Regions from separate parts of the Homo sapiens genome. Here region 2 is linked to region 1. The links come from fine-mapping of genetic effects on gene expression. Tissue or cell type: sun-exposed skin. Region 1 holds a variant in brackets; the other region holds the start of a gene. All regions are shown on one strand. Distances are from middle to middle.

Region 1 (2,759 bases):
AAAAGGAGTGGGCAGTGCAGTTGGAGTCAAAGCACTGGGGCTCCCATTCACGCTGAAGTATGGTTCATCAGCATCATTCAGGTTCCTGGTATAAAGAAGGAAGATGTAAATCTGAATTTACTCCATGTTGCTGAGTAAGGTGGCTCACACCTGCAGTCCCAGCTACTTAGGAGGCCAAGGCAGGAGGACTGCTTGAACCCAGGAGTTCAAATCCAGCCTGGGCAACATAGTGAGATCCTATCTCAAAATACATAATAATAAATTAATTTACTCCATGCTTGGTGGTTTGCCAAAGAACAGAGGGCAATGGAGTGGAGGGAGCTGGTAAGAGAGTGTTGGAATTGCTGTTCTGTGGGGTCTGGGCTAGAAAGGACAAAAGTGAACATAGGAAGTGGTTCATCAGACTTGGAGGATGTGGGGGAGATGGGATGTGAAGTGGTGCTTTCTTCACAGCATTTGCCTTGGTTGTAACTAAGCCTTTAGTTAAGTCATCATTGGATCACTGTGCTCTGCCCCAGGTGCAGGTCTTTGTGAGAAGGGACCATGCCTGTGTGGTTCATCGCTGTATCGCAGTCCCTTGCACAGTCCCTCCTACACACCGGGTGCTCATTAATTTTTTGTTGAATATTTAATGAGAGAGCTGGAAGGTCTGGGAGAGACTGGATTATGGCAGAGAGGCATATGGACTCCCACAGGTGGAGTACTTCCAAGGGATGATAGATCCAAGCCATGGAGGGAAAGAGGCGAGATGCAGCAAGGTGACCTCAACAGAGCCATGTCGAGCTGGGGAGAGGAAGCACAGGCAGAAAGGAGAGAGGGAACAGCAGTCAAGGGGCTGGAGACCGTGGGGATGAGAGGCCAAAATTAACTGGCCTCAGGTTGCTAGCTAGAAATTTATCAAAAAAAGTATTAGTTTGGTGCAAAAGCAATTGTGTTTTTTTACATTATTATTATACTTTAAGTTCTAGGATACATATGCAGAAGGTGCAGGTTTGTTACATAGGTACACACGTGCCATGGTGGTTTGCTGCACCCATCAACCAGTCATCTACATTTGGTATTTATCCTAATGCTCTCCCTCCCCCAGCCTCCCACCTCTTGACAGGCCCCAGTGTGTGATGTTCCCCTCCCTGAGTCCATGTGTTCTCATTGTTCAACTCCCACTTATGAGTGAGAACATGCAGTGTTTGGTTTTCTCTTCCTGTGTTAGTTTGCTGAGAATGATGGTTTCTAGCTTCATCCATGTCCCTGCAAAGGACATGAACTCATCCTTTTTTATGGCTGCATAGTATTCCATGGTGTATATGTGCCACATTTTCTTTATCCAGTCT[C/T]TCATTGATGGGCATTTGGGTTGGTTCCAAGTTTTTGCTATTGTGAACAGTGCTGCAATAAACATATGTATGCATGTGTCTTTATAGTAGAATGATTTATAATCCCCAATGGCAAAAACCACAATTACTTTTGTACCAACCTAATACTTTAGTGCTGAAATTGAGGTACGCCATGGCTTGCAGGAGGCTGTACTTGCTACTTATATCTGGTTCTGGTAAGTAGAAGCAAGAACTAAGAGAGGTCATCCAGGCCAAAATAATAAGCAGAAAGAAAAATATTCTGCCCGTGGACACATCTCAATGTTAGGCAGAAATTAACTGAAAATCAGTTATGGTGCAACTGCTTCATTTTATCTTTTCAGAATTCCTTTTTCAAAATACTTTCCCTCCTGCATGAGTATTCTGAGTTGGGTCTGCCTTTGCTATTAACATCTGTATAATCAAGTTTATGGTCTAATTGGGCAATCACTGCAAACATTTCTGGGTAAAAAGCCATGCATTCTAGCATTATTTTAATAAGCCTCTGATCCAGTTAGTTCTAGTCATCCAGTGGTTTATTTTGTACTAAAGAACCAGCTTTTAGATTTGGCACTACCTTTTTCCATTTTCTAATTCAGTATTATCTGCTTTTATCTGTGTTTAATGTGTCCCCTCTTTTCTTGGTGTATTTTGTTGCACTCTTTTCTTTTCTTAATTTTTTGAGTTGGATACTAATTCACCTTTTTTCCATTATTCCTTTTTGGACTGATTTAAATACTTAAGACTAAAATCTCCCATGAGCTCTGCCTTATTTTTTACAGGTTTCATAATTGCTGTTTTCTAGAAATTTTACAATTTTTGATATCTATATCTTCTTTATATCAAGAGTATTTGGGCTGGGTGTGGTGGCTCACGCCTGTAATCCCAGCACTTTGGGAGGCCGAGGTGGGTGGATCACTGGAGGTCAGGAGTTCAAGACCAGCCTGGCCAACATGGCAAAACCCCCTCTCTACTAAAACCACAAAAATTAGCCGGGCGTGATGGCACGCCTGTAGTCCCAGCTACTTGGGAGGCTGAGACAGGAGAATCGCTTGAACCTGGGAGGTGGAGGTTGCAGTGAGCCAAGATCCCACCACTTCACTCCAGCCCCAGCATGGGTAACAGAGTGAGACTCCATCTAAAAAAAGAGAGTATTTGATAAAAATGGTTTTAAATTTTTTTAAATTGAAAATTCCAAACATAAACAAAAGTAGAGAAATAGGATATAGGATTTCCATATACCCATTACACAGCTCAATGATTATCAATATATGACAAATTTTGGTTCATCTTACTGCAAATCCCAGATATCTTATCATCTTATTACAAACATTTCAATATGAAAATAAAGATTTTTGAATTTCCTAGTGGAAGGGAGGTTTTTTTCTGGCGTTATTGTTAATGTCTGAT
Region 2 (2,759 bases), 20 kb after region 1:
TTCAATCTGCAAGAAAGCTCACCCCCCACCCACACCCCACAAGCTCAGAGCCCCCAGAGTATAGGATCCGAGGCAGCAAGTGTGAGCGAGGCCCGTCCTGGGGGAGGTGGCCTCTGGCCGCGGGGCCAGGTTGCCCTCAGAGGCGCAGGCGGCCAAGAGAGTTCCCAGCCGCCGCCGCCCCCCTCCTTCCCCTTGGGCCCGTCCAGCAAATTTCCTCCCTCGTTTCTGTTCGTGCCTTCCCTCCCTCCTCCTCCCCCCGATATTTTCGCTTTCTAAAACCATAAAAAAGAGATCAACTTCCCAAACTTCACAGGGCCCTTTTCAGTGACAAATATTGATGCCCAAAGTGTCTGCGCTCTCCCGCCCCCAAACGTTAAGAAAAGACGCCAGCGAAAGGGAGACATAAAAAGTTAACAATGCTGTGAAAATATGTTTGCAGAAAATAGACAATCGTTGGATTAAACGTATTCAAGTATGAAATAATGCCTTTTTGTGTCAAAACTTGGGCGATGGGCGGGTACAAAAGTTCCCTGTGGCAGCTACTTGCTCCCTTTGTGAGCCGTGCGCTTTGGCGTCTCCACTTGGGCGCATTACTCAGAGCCCTCTAAGCGCGATTGTTTCTCCCTTTCTAATGACATTTACCGGATCAAAACATGCTGTTAATTCGATCAGAAGGCTTCACCCTCCCTGACAAAGCCACAATAATTTCTCCTGAAGTTTGTTAAATTGACCAAAATTAGGCAAATGAATAGGGGTCTGTAGGCGCCCCCTCTCGCAGGTGACGTTGCATAATGCTTGCCTGGGCCAGCTGCATTCCCCCTTTTCTTCTCGGCCCACTCTTCTCCGTGTTGCCCCCCAATCCTCCCACCCGCCCCTTCACACACAAACACACACACACGCCCGCCAGTCTCTCCTCCCCCACCCTCTGGCATTATTAAAATTTAGCCCAATGAAACTATTCATACTTTTCAATGGACATTTTCGTATAGGATAATAGGCTACAAATTGAGCCTCTTCCCCCCGCGAAGAGGGAGCAGGAGGGGTGGGGAGAAAAGAAAGCCAGCGACGTGGTCAGGGAGTAGGGGGGAGCGTCGCGTGCCAAACAGCGGCGGGAGGGGCGAGGCGAGGCGAGGCGGGAGCCTCGTGTGCCAGCCGCAGCCCCACACCTGCCGGGATGTCCGGACAAATAAAGCGGTGTAAACAAAAAGGGGGGAGAAGGACGTGTCACCAAGTCGTGTGAGAAAAGCCTGGGAACAAACGGGGCGCCTCCGTCTCCAAGAGCTCTCCCTTGAACCCGGCGGAACAGCCTATTAAAGGCTTACTTAATTACTTTAATGACTCTGGACAGGCTTTAAAACGCACTCGGCGCTGGGACGGCGGGCTTGCTGGGATTTGTAAACAGGCGATCATGTGAGACTCAGCGGTGGGACTAAAAGAGGCGACACTGTTTTGTGAGGGTCCTCGCCCCCCGGTGCCCGCGGCCGCTGCGCCCCTGCGCTCCGCGCCCGCGACTGCTGCAGGCGCTTGCTCGCCCGCCGGCCCCAGTTTACCGCCTCCTTTTCCCGCCCGAGCTGTTGCCATGCAAATGTTATTCCTGGGCCGATCACGTGTCCTTTGAAGGGCCACGTGGATTAACAAAGCTGATCTGCCCCCAGCTCGCCCCCCTCGGCTGCTAATTTTTTTTTTTTCTTAACTTCTTTAAAACTGATCTTGAATGCATACATCCTCCAAACGCAGCTCCCCTAATCCTATGGAATAATTCAACTCGTGAATGCATCTGGAGCCCTAGATGACCGCTTTATAAGGCAGCCCTCGGAGTTGGGAGGCTGCAGTCTACCTGGGACACTCGAGGAGGCACACGAGGCGGAAAAGTGGACGGGTGCCCCGCGCCACCGCCTCTCCCGAGGGCGCGTACTGACCAGGATGTCAGACAAGCTCAAGGAACGCAAAGTGAGTCGGCTGAGCCCAAATGGCACTTGCGCCCTGGTGGTGGAGGCATCTGACTCACCGACCCGCCACTTGGGTGGACCGATGGCAGGGAAGTGCCCGCACGGGACTTTGAGTGTGGAGGAATCTCGAGTGGTTTGGGAAGGGGGTGGGGTAGAGAGAGGAGGGTGCTCAACCAGGTAGAAGTCCTGCCTGGAGGCTGGCGGCCACCTCCCCAAAGGCCTGGGTAGGGTGGCTGGAAGGGGAGCGCGCCAGCGCGGGCGTCAGAAGGCAGAGCTCACCTGGCCCGAGCGTGGCGGGCCAGGAGTCCCTTCCTAGAGCGAATCTGAGCAGTGTGCGCGGCTGGAGAGGCGGCTTGCACCCAGCTGCTAGAGCCGCGCCTTTGACGACTTCCCGGGCAAAGCCATCCTAAACATACAACCCTCTCTTCGCAGAGAACCCCCGTTTCTCATAAAGTGATAGAAAAGCGGAGGAGGGACAGGATCAACCGCTGCTTGAACGAGCTGGGCAAGACAGTGCCCATGGCCTTGGCGAAGCAGGTAACGTTGGCGACCCGGAGCCGGGTGCCAGGCGTTGGGAGGCCTCTGCGGCCACTCTGCGGAGACGCCCGAGCCCGCGGACACAGAGGACCTCACTTGCGGGCCCCTCCCAGGCGGGGGGCCTGAGCGCAGGGCGAACCTCAGGAGGCTCTGGCGCAGATCCGCAGCCGCGTCCGCTCGCTGGTCCTCTCCAGCGCCACAGTGCCCGACCAGCAGGCGCTGGGCCGCTGCGAGGGGCCCTTCCTCCTTTTGCAGAGTTCCGGGAAGCTGGAG

Evidence for each region. PIP is the estimated chance that this variant, and not a neighbour inherited with it, causes the effect.
Region 2: it holds the start of HELT, and the variant in region 1 is fine-mapped to the expression of HELT in sun-exposed skin (GTEx, PIP 0.96).

Annotation. Positions count from the first base shown.
Region 1 is chr4:184,996,573-184,999,331 of GRCh38, forward strand. The region is part of intron 1 of LINC02437 (long intergenic non-protein coding RNA 2437); the gene reads left to right. Among named protein-coding and RNA genes, the nearest start is that of LINC02437, 8.6 kb to the left of the region's middle. The variant C/T (reference allele first, on the strand shown) is at 1,332.
Region 2 is chr4:185,017,006-185,019,764 of GRCh38, forward strand. It overlaps HELT (helt bHLH transcription factor), which reads left to right and starts at 1,485. Exons shown (of 4, transcript NM_001300781.2): 1 at 1,485-1,950; 2 at 2,382-2,486; 3 at 2,742-2,759. The coding sequence starts at 1,924. RefSeq lists enhancers at 735-1,315, 1,316-1,894, 1,895-2,474.